3 linked regions of the Homo sapiens genome follow. The protein of the gene in region 2 purifies or fractionates together with the protein of the main gene of each other region. This does not show direct contact. Each region holds a gene or a part of one and is shown on either strand. Other genes may lie near its edges. The genes, in order: NLRP3, CCDC50 and MAP2K4.

The links.
Region 1: the proteins of CCDC50 (region 2) and NLRP3 purify together in Homo sapiens (affinity purification with western blotting; one study listed by BioGRID). This does not show direct contact.
Region 3: the proteins of CCDC50 (region 2) and MAP2K4 purify together in Homo sapiens (affinity purification with western blotting; one study listed by BioGRID). This does not show direct contact.

Annotation. Positions count from the first base shown.
Region 1 is NC_000001.11:247,436,538-247,440,192, reverse strand, and holds part of NLRP3 (NACHT, LRR and PYD domains-containing protein 3), read right to left. Parts: intron 913-3,655; exon of another isoform or gene 660-912; intron 1-659. UniProt on the Homo sapiens protein: Sensor component of the NLRP3 inflammasome, which mediates inflammasome activation in response to defects in membrane integrity, leading to secretion of inflammatory cytokines IL1B and IL18 and pyroptosis.
Region 2 is NC_000003.12:191,356,861-191,360,515, forward strand, and holds part of CCDC50 (coiled-coil domain-containing protein 50 long isoform), read left to right. Parts: intron 1-227; coding exon 228-290; intron 291-1,137; coding exon 1,138-1,264; intron 1,265-3,655.
Region 3 is NC_000017.11:12,111,318-12,114,972, reverse strand, and holds part of MAP2K4 (dual specificity mitogen-activated protein kinase kinase 4), read right to left. Parts: intron 1,741-3,655; coding exon 1,613-1,740; intron 1-1,612. UniProt on the Homo sapiens protein: Dual specificity protein kinase which acts as an essential component of the MAP kinase signal transduction pathway. Essential component of the stress-activated protein kinase/c-Jun N-terminal kinase (SAP/JNK) signaling pathway.

The sequences.
Region 1 (3,655 bases), on a different chromosome or scaffold from region 2:
AATATGCAGCCAGAGATGAGGACCCAAAGTTCGAGAGAAAAAAATGTAGCTATACCTAACACATAGGCTATACCTAACACATAGGCTATACCTAACACGTAGGCTATACCTAACCCATAGGCTATACCTAACACACAGGCTATGCCTAACCCATAGGCTATACCTAACACACAGCCACATGTATGGCTGTACCTAACACATAAAATGCATAAAAGTCTCGACTGATTAATGCCACTTATAGATACCTATCTCAAAGCAAATACACATGCATAAAACTATATATACAAATGTGCTTTTTGCAGAGTTGTTTGTAATAGTGGAAAAGAACAGTTATCCCAAAATGCATGATTTGATTAAATAAATTATGGTAAAGCACACTATGGGATATTATGCCCCAATCGATAGATCTACACAAATCAGCATGGAAATTTATCCATGATAAATGAAAAAAGGATATCACAGAAAAATATTTATATTATGGTTCTAGTTTCAATAGATAGGGTGTTATGGATTGAATTGTTTCCTCTAAGACTTTATATGTGGAAGTCCTAGGCCCCAGTACTTCAGATTGTGACCTTATTTGGTGATACGGTTACTGAAAATGTAATTAGTTAAGATCAGGTCGTTACAAATCTAACATGACTTGTGTTCTTTCACAGGGAAACTTGGGACATGGAGAAAGACACACACAGACACAGGGAAGACACCACGTAGAGATAAAGGCAATGGTGTGGCAGAGGCATCTACAGGTCAAGGAATGGCAAAATGTGTCAGCAAGATGACATTCCACCAGAAGCCAAAGAGAAGCATGAACAGATTCCCCACAGCCCTCAGAAGGACCCAGCCTGCTAGCATCTTAATCTCACACTTCTGGCCTCCAGAACTGAGGGACAATAAATTTCTGTTGTTTAAGCTGCTCTGTTTGTGATACTTTATTACAGTAGCTCTAACAGACTAGGCATTTAAAATACTACATAACAATGTATTACAAATGCAACATGAAAATCACATAGGTCTTCATTCACATTACTGATATAAATACCACCCAGATCAGCATATACAGGAAATCCATTTGTCCATAATTAGCAACCAATATATGTTCACAAAGCTCTGATACTCCCTTGGATGGATTGATGGATGGATGGATGGATGGATGGATGGATGGATGGATGGATTGACGGATGGAAAATAGAGGGATGGATGATGGATGGATGGATGGATGGACAGATGAATGGATTATATAACAATCTATTGTATTAAAAAAAGTCTGGATGGTTGTTCATCAGACTATTGTAAATGGCTCTCTCAGAAGAGGGCTGAGAAGGAGCTTTCACTTTCCACTTTGTCTGTACTATGATATGTTTACACCAAGCATGTGTTACTTTTCTAATAAAAAGTTTGTGAATGATATCTGGGTTTGAGACCTACTGTTGTTGAAATTGAGAGGTATATGAGAATTCTCAGGGAGTTTAGAAATATTTAGTAACAACAACAACAAAAAAGGTAAACCAGGCGGGTGTGTGGCTCACGCCTGTAATCCCAACACTTTGGGAGGCCAAGGCAGGCAGATCACCTGAGGTCAGAAATTCGAGACCAGCCTGGCAAACATGGTGAAACCCCGTATCTACTAAAAATACAAAAATTAGCCAGGCATGGCAGTGCACACCTGTAGTCCCTGCTACTCAGAAGGCTGAGGCAGAAGAATTGTTGGAACCCGGGAGGCAGAGGTTGCAGTGAGCCAAGATTGCGCCACTGCATTTTAGCCTGGGTGACAGAGTAAGACTCCAACTCAAAAAAAAAAAAAAAAAAAAAAACACAACTAAACCAGTCGTGAAATCCCCAGACCACAGGAAGAGAAGCCAATGCAGGATCCAGGGAGGGGGAAGCTATAACATTAGCAGGAAAGACTAAGTAGTGACCTAAAAATAAGAGCGAAGAAGGCTTCCAAAGAGGAAGAGTGAAATGAATTAAAGGCAGCAGATGTCAACTAAAGTAAGGACTGGGAAGGACCTGTACGACCTATAAGGACCCAGCCTGCTGATGCCTCAGTCTCAGACTTTGGCCTCCTGAACTGAGAGGCAATAAACTCTTGTTGTTTAGGCCGCTCTGTTTGTGATACTTTATTACAGCAGCTCTACCAGGTTAGGTATTGACAATAGTAACTACATAGAGCATATTACAGATGCATCAGGCACATTTGTAATTGGCTTGTTTGTCATGTGGAATTTGGAACCAGGATCACTGAGAGTCACCTGAGTGCCTACGCCTGGGCCTCTTCGGTTCCATCTGCTTTGCCTGGAGGGCTCTTCCGGCTCCTTCACAGCCCATCCCACGCTTCACTGAGCACCTGCTCCAATGTCACCCGCTCGGAGAGGCACTCGCCAAACGTGAGCAGAGAAGCACCCCTCGCCGTCACTCCAGTTTTTCTTATAGCTCTTATACACAGGGTATATTGTTTAGCATGTCTATTATCTGTTATCACTTCCCTAAAAGAACGGTTGTGAAAACAGGATTTTGGTCTGTTTTACTCACTGCTGCTGTCAGTGCCCACCACAGAGCCCCCAGAGGGCCTGCAAAATGAAGGGACAAAATCATGTCTGTTGAACAAACTTAGAGAAGCAGAAGTCAAATTGCCAAGGAAGAGTAATATTCTAAGGCGATTTGCTAAGGAAGGGTAATACCCTAAGGCGAGGAAATGAAGGCACTGCAGGAAGACTTCATAGAAAGAGATATGGTCACATCTGAGGATTGGCTGATGGGAGAGGTCCAAGGAAGTATCAGAGCTTTGTGAACAGAGGTTGGTTGTTAATTATGGATTAGTGGATTACTCCTCTGGGAAGACCTTTCCTGCCAAATTTTGTCTTGAATGCTGATCTGGCTGGTATATATATTAATAATGTGAATGAATGAAGACCTATCCAATTTGCTTATTGTATTTGTAGATATTATTGTCAGAATGAAGATTCAAAACTGCCTAGTCAATGGGTCAAAAGACAGGTAAGATGAGGTTTAGCAAAGCTAAATTGGAGGTCCCACCCTTAAGCTGAGAGCCAGATGAAGAAGCCCTGTAGAGAGCCCATTAGCAACATCTCCTAAGGCAATGCACTGGGAATTAAGGCAGTGGCTTGGGAGGTCACAGACGTTTGTCTACACTGAGTTCCACTACCTTCTCTCTGAGTGTCCTTGGACAAAGTTATGAGGCTCCCTGAATTTTATTTTCTCCTCTTTAAATTGGAGACACAGATACCCTACCCTATAGCATCTTTCTGAAGCCAACTGAGAAAATCCATGTAAGAACATGAAAGAGCAGGTGATACAGGGAAAGTGATACAGGAAAGTGGTACAGGGAAAGTGCATGATTATTAGTGGGTATTCCCTACTACTGTTTACTGCAGAATTCCAACATGAATCAAAAGGCTTATGTAACTGCCAAAAAAAACAAGGAAATCAGAGATTCCACCAGTGAAACCATAGTTCTCTGCAACAGGAGGTAAAACATCCACCATGCATCATCAGGTCTGGGCACCACATTTCAAAGACAGACACTAACAAACCAGCCTGTGTACCTGGGAGAGCATGGCTACATAGGTGAAGGTGCTGAGCCATGACACTGTTGAGGATATAGAGGCTGCAGTGTAAGAGTCCTCTCCTAGTG
Region 2 (3,655 bases):
GTATTTTGTGACACCCTGTGCTTGGCACTAAGCAGGCACTATAGATTTTTGTGACTAAAGACTGCATACTTAACTAGTCACTATTTTATGCATTGAGAATTATAAAGTGTGTCATTCTGAAATATTAGAATTGATTTTTTTTAAAGTAAAAAAAAAAAATCCTTTCCTTTGTATGTTAAAGTATTACTAATGAGCCTTCCTGTCTGTTTTTCCTCCATCTACTCTAGTATGCCGAGATTTTGCTGTCCTGGAGGACCACACCCTGGCTCACAGCCTGCAGGAACAAGAGAGTGAGTAATACCTCTCATTTATGCTCCTTCAGTTTTCTTTTTTTAGTGGTAGCTTGAGGCTGGTTTCTTAGGGCTTAGGTGGGGAGAGAGCACAGTCACTTGGCTTCACCATCCATACATCCTGAAGGATTTCTTTAGGCAAATGATGCCTGGGTGATCAGTGAAGTTTCGGGCATGTTAAGTAAGATAGGCTGCCAGGAATTAGTAGACTGCTGCGTCTGTAGGAGGAAAAAGAGAGGTTTGAACCTTTTTCCTAGCCTCTTGTTGTAGGAGGGACACAATGGTTGTAGATTTATCTGGGGTGCGTAGAAGGAATCTATTCTTGCTCCTAGGATAGGGACTTGAACAGTTTTCCCAGGCAACTGTGGTATAAATGAGATCACATTGTGAATTTTTCTGAATCTTTTTTTCCATGTGGTGATGAAAAGTAAATCTAAGCTATGCATGTTATATTAAAGTACATACTTGTGAATATATGATTTGTGAATTCACATATCAATATAAAATTGACATTTTGAAAAATGCGGTTAATAAATAGAGTGACAACATGTAGTAGTAGAAAGAGCATTGGCCCTGGCTTTAGAATATTTGTGTAGATGTCCTGGCACTGCCACTTTGTTGCCGTGTGACCAAAGGCAAATTATTTAATCTTTTTGATCCTCTTTTTACTTAATGGAAAAGTGGGGATAATAATTCCTTGCTCTTTATTATATATTGTTGTTGAGACAATAAAATGAAGTGATGGATGCAAAGCTGTTGTTATGGTAAAGCTCTTAAGATTATTATGGCATTTATTACTAACAAACCAAGACATTATTCATTCCTGTCCTCAATCTTTTTGTTCCAGTTGAGCATCATTTGGCATCGAACGTTCAGCGGAACCGTTTGGTCCAGCATGATCTCCAGGTGGCTAAGCAGCTCCAAGAGGAAGATCTGAAAGCGCAGGCCCAGCTCCAGAAGCGCTACAAAGACCTGTGAGGATTTGGGAGGTGGGAGGGGTGATGCAAGACTGGTTTTCTCTGTGGAGCTAGCAACCAGGGCAGGGGAGAAGGAGACTACTTCTGTTCCTCTGATTCCTTCTACTGTTAGATTACAAATCTTACCCTGGATGTCTAACAGTTTTTTTGATTTGAAAATGTTTTGTTTTTGTTGGAGCACTTGACCAGGTTTAAGGACATGTTGATGATGGTGTGAATTTTAACATTTTTTAGCTGTTATGACCTTGGGCCAGTTAGTCAACTTCTCTGAATTTATTTTCCTTACCCATAACATGCGGATAATAATCTCTGTCCCCTCTGCCTCATAGTTTCTTTGGGGGATCCAGTGAAATAGTGGACATCAAATAACTTTATGGGTTGTATTGGTTCCTTTACTATGTTCTAGCTGTGTTTGCCGCTCTTACTTTCCTTGCTTTTCAGTACATAGCAGAATGTTCTGAAAAGCTCTGAAGTGTAGACTCAGTTTTTTTCATAACTTCAGTGTCTGACAAAAGTTCTCTCTAGTAGCCTCCTTTAACACACAGATAAACGGAAATGATTATTTCTCAGGTTTCTTTTGGCACAGTGACTTTTATTCTGTTTCAGTGTTATAAAGCTCCCAGGATACATTTCTTCTTTGAGAGTGGCTCTTACATCCTAAATCTTTAATGTGGGTAGATTTAACCACAGATACTGTGTTGAGGAGGAAGGGGTAAAGGAAAAATGGAAGGAACCCCTTAATTTACTTCAGTGTCATATTCAGGTAAAAAGGAAAGCCAGTCATTTTTGCTAACTTATAGGAAGGGTTTGTCTTTCTGTTTATTATTTGTAGAGAGGACTTTATTAATCATTTTGTTAAGCTTCCCTTATTTTGTAAATAAACACTTTTATTGATTCATGCTAAATCTGGCACCATGAAAGGAGACCAGAGATATGAATAAGACAGCTGTTGCCTTTAAGGGCCTCAGGAAAACACCTTGAGCATTGTGTATCTAGAGATACGTGCATGAGTCACAGAGAATTGAAATGTAAATTTCAGGCCTATTTAGAGAGAAGAGACTGGGAAAAGCTTCACAAGACGATGTGTTTAATCTGAAACTTGAAGGTTAATTAGAAGTTTATAGTGATGGGGAAAACCATTCTAGCCAGAAGGAGCAGCATGCATAAGGGCAGGAGGTAAGAGGACTTGGAATCAATCTCACGTTAGCTGCAAGAAGTTCAGTGTTGCTGGAGTGGAGAGTGTATTTACAGGCAGAAGTAGGAAGTGAGGCCAGGAAAGTAGTCAAAAGCTGGATCAAAAGGGTCACGATAAGTTATGTTAAAGATTTCAGGTTTTGTAGATTTTAAATTATAAGGAATGGAGAACCTTTGAAGTAGTTTCAGATTTTCATTTTGGGATCTATTCTGTAGACTAGGTGGGTAAAGGCTTGGAGTGGGCAAGATTTGAAGGCAGCTGTTGAGCAATGGTCAAATTAAGAGATGGTGAGGCTTGAATGAGGACAGTGGTGACAGAGAGGAAGGAGATGATGAGGCCTAAATTGAAGGTCATGGTAATGGAGATGTAAAGAGGAGGAGAGATATTTGAGATGTTATGAGGCTCAGTGTCACAGGTTAAGGTGAGAACCAAAGCTAGAATGTTCTAGAGTTCTAAATTCATTGCCCTTTACATTATTCACAATTCTCTGTTAGAAAGGCCAGTTCTGAGGTTGATGCAGATGTTTAAAATCCTGAATTAGGTTAATAACAGTATAATGAGCTTTTTCAGAAATTATCAAGACAAACCACTCAAATATAAATCAGGAGTAGAGAGTGATATTTTATAGGTCCTAAAGGAGAGAAGAACCGGGTATTATATTTCTGCCTGAGACTTCAAGGTTTTGAAATTGTTCCTGGATGAAATAAGTAAGCTAGAAGGGAAGTCTTTCAGTTCACTCCCTGGCAATTTTAATAGCTGTACATCTTGGGAAGGATGAAATGCTGCAGTTTTCATTGAACTGGAACCTTTTATTCAGTCTGGATACCCGGGCTGCCGTAAGTCAGGATTACCGCTTGTTTACTACTGCTTTCTCAGTTTCGCTTTCCCAGGAGTCTGTATAATTAGCTGACTGAACCAGAGATGGTACTTCTTGGAAATATGGTTTGAAATCATTAAACTCAGATGAAGCTTCACTTATTTATTTTCTGTACCAGGAGATACATCTTCTGTGTCACTTGTGACCTTTAACACTTCATTTGGGTTTGCCTTCTCTACGGTGCTTCTACTTTCTTCCCACTTATTATCACATCCAATGTAGTTATTAGTCAATTAATTCTATACAGATTTTACATTAATTTGGGAGGTTCAGGTAGAGGCTTGAATGAAGACAGAGGCTTTTGAAAACTAAGTCC
Region 3 (3,655 bases), on a different chromosome or scaffold from region 2:
GGACAGAAGAATTTCATCTGGTCCAGTAAAGATTAGAGGCCAAGAGTTTATCAGCCTTTGTGTTCCACAGATGAAGGTCAGCAAGAAAACAGAAGTCTTACATCTCCTGGGCCTGCAAAGCATATCTCTGCACAAGAATGACGAAAGTCTGTTTTAAAGAAAGTCTGAGTCTTTCTTAGAAAGCTGAATTCAAAATATTCTACTTTATCTGGGCTGCAATTGCATTTTCAAAGCCTGCTTCAATCAAATATAATTCTTAGTCAGTGTCACACAACAAAAACATTTAGTCACTGTTAGTATCGAGACAAGCCCTAAAACTGTAAATAACAATTTCAGTTCATTCTCGGGGTATCCTTAATAAATATGTAAATCACATTTCCCAAATACTCCATGTCTAATTTTTTTTATTTCTTGCCTTTGAAACTATTGTGCCATTTATCCCTAGTTATCACGATAAACAAATGATCTTCCAAACTGAGTCAAGAAATCTGCCCAGCCAGTCAACATCCACAAAACCAAAAGTTTAAAAGGTCTTACCACACAGGTTAGGTGTCTACACACACACACACACACACACACACACACCGCTTTTACATGTTCATCTGAAGAAAAAGTGATATGGGAAGATATAACAAAACCAAAAGAGGATTGAAAAATGCAGTAAGTTGAATTTGTAGTAGCACTAAGCCTATCCATTCATAAATAATCTAGAACACCTATAATATCTAGCCTGTGACTCTTACTTTTTTATTATTTATAGCACTAGGTTTGAAAACATATATATCAAGGAGGAAACCAAGAAAGAACAATTTTATTCAATTCTAAGCTTATCTTTAGTTTAAAACAGTCTACAAAGATGGAAAGAAATGCTGCTGGCAGGGAGGCCTCAAGAAACAACCACAAAACCTTATGTGTCACATTTAGTAGTGTGCTGGTCCCCAAAGAACCATGGCAACATTGAAGAAAGACATTAACACCTAGGGAAATGTCTGAAATACAGACACTACATTTTCATTCAAATACAGATCAAAATCCAGGCTGTAGGAACACTGTATGCAAATATACTGGGGTAAGATGAGTTTGATATCTATGGATGGATAGTGTACATCTGTCTCTTTGCAGGAAAAGAGGCTCCAGGTTGCAAAATACTGAAGGCCTCTACCTTTGCATTTGTTGGTGTGCTTCATCTACCCCTAAAAAAAAGGACTAACAATATTCAAAATATGCAGCTTCAGACTCTGTAATACATAGTGAATTCTGCTAATGAACTCAAGGCTTCCCATTTGTCTCACTAAGGGACGGTGGGAACTTTCTGAGAAGTTACCATCTGTTTAATGAGTTGAGTTCAATATAATGAAAAAACAATAATCAGAGAAGACCACAACTGCTAAATACCAAGTAAGAGAAATAAAGCAAGACAATGAAAACAGGAGCTGACTGGGATAATTTAGCAAAGTTTCATGGAGAGGCTAGGACCTGAGCTTGGGCCTTAGGGTAAGGGAAATATTCTAGCAGTTTCATGGTAAAACCGTATGACTAATGGCCAGCACAAAAGAGCACAGGCTCTCTGTGCAATGACTATCAAGCAAGAAGGCCTGGACTTAACACTTACTGCCATGTATGGCCTACAGCCAGCATCTCTTGTCTTGGCAATAGAGTCCACAAGCTGTCCACTGATGCCGAAGTCACAGAGCTTAATATTTCCACTTCTGTCCAGAAGAATATTGGAAGGTTTGATATCTGCAAGACATAGATATCATTCAGTATACAATTAGCTTCTTCCTAAGTTACATAAGGCTTCACTTTAAGCAAAAATATTGAAAAACCTTAGACAACATAAGTGGTCAAGTCCTTAAATTCAGATATATAAGAAGTAAAACATCTTCATTTATCACATACAATAATTATTCATGTTTTAAACATGTAGCTTTAATAACTATAATTGTGTAAATGTAACAGCAAAAGTCATTTCACAAACATTAATCTGTAAGATATAGATGGGGATTGATTTTTCTCTTAACATCTTCATATTTATAAAACACAGAAAAAACAATGGTTTTCTTCTATTGAAAATGAGAAAGGAAAACAATTTTCTGAATGCCAGTGCTTAAAAACTGAATATCAAAAAAAATTTTCACAAGAAATTTAGGCATTAAATTGTTTTCAAGAGGCTTACAAATTCATTTACTTAGTCCAGATTCATTACATAACAGTCAAAATATAAGGAATGTCAAATCCCTTTCTCATTGACAATCAAGTCACTACCAGTATGTGCCAACTAATTCTCTATCCATAGCTCAGTCCTTTTATCCATGTCCTTGTCACTATCCTGGCTCAATGAATAAAAAATAAGGTTTTAAAATATAGGATGCAGAAAACATCTAAATGTAACTCAGAAGGTGATCCACAAAAAAATTCAGTAAAGATCTCTTACCATGACCGAAACAGCTGTGGGCCTATCAAACATCCATTCCTAACCATCCATGCTTTTTTTTTTTTTTTTTTTTGAGACAAGAGTCTCGCTCTTTTTTACCCAGGCTGGAATGCAGTGGTGCAATCCCCACTCACTGCAACCTCCGCCTCCCAAGTTCAATCGATTCTTCTGCTTCAGCCTCCCAAGTAGCTGGGATTACAGGCATGCGCCACCACACCTGGCTAATTTTTGTATTTTTAGTAGAGATGGGGTTTCACCATGTTGGCTAGGCTGGTCTCGAACTTCTGACCTCAAGTGATCCAGCTGCCTTGGTCTCCAAAGTGCTGGGATTACAGGTGTCAGCCACCACACCCAGCCCCATCCATACTTTCTAACAGAACCTGTGTTTTATTGAAGTATCTCTTCTCATCAACATCCACACCTCGAAAACCTGGCTGTTGGCTGGTATAAGTTTTATAAGGGTAGTCTCATGCTTCTTGATAGTAGCTGGTTTAAGGGCATGAGGCACTTCTGGTGAATGAGCCAAGAAAAGGTATTAGAGACGTGGGAAAAGTTTCCATACTCCCTACAGAGCTGCACAGCACGAGAGCACCTCTTCTTCACGAGGCAGCCACATATAGACATGATAGTGGGAACTGCTCTAGTTGTTACTACCCTGAGGACAGAGTTAACACATGAAGGAGGACAGAAGGAAGAGGAGCATATTGTGCTTTGAGCCACCCCATCTTTGGACTAATTATGACAGATAATGAATTTCCCTGAAGTTTAAAGAGAGTTATCAGGATTTTCTATTACTTGTAATCAAAAGCACTGACTCCAACAAAAAAGCTAACTGATCCTAACTGATAAAAGATGGCTATAAACTCATCACTTCATTTAGTAAGAGAACAATAAAAGTTACTTCTGAAGTTTTTTTATTTTATTCAACTACTCCCCAGGCAGTACCTTGGTGCTTTACTGTGATCAGTAAATATCCCTAAGGTAACTATCAAATGCCTCAAAGGTGCTACTCTCATAATTATAGAACACAGCTAACAAAGAAGGGAAAAAAAAAAAAATCAAGACAAGAACAAGAAGAAATACAAGAGAAACAAAGAATTTTGTTTAGGGACCTAACTCTACATAATTTTAGGCCAAAAGAAAAAAAGATATTATTTCTAACAAGCATTAAGCCAAACAAAATTAAATAAAATTTACTGATGTTCAAGGTTCACTAATTTC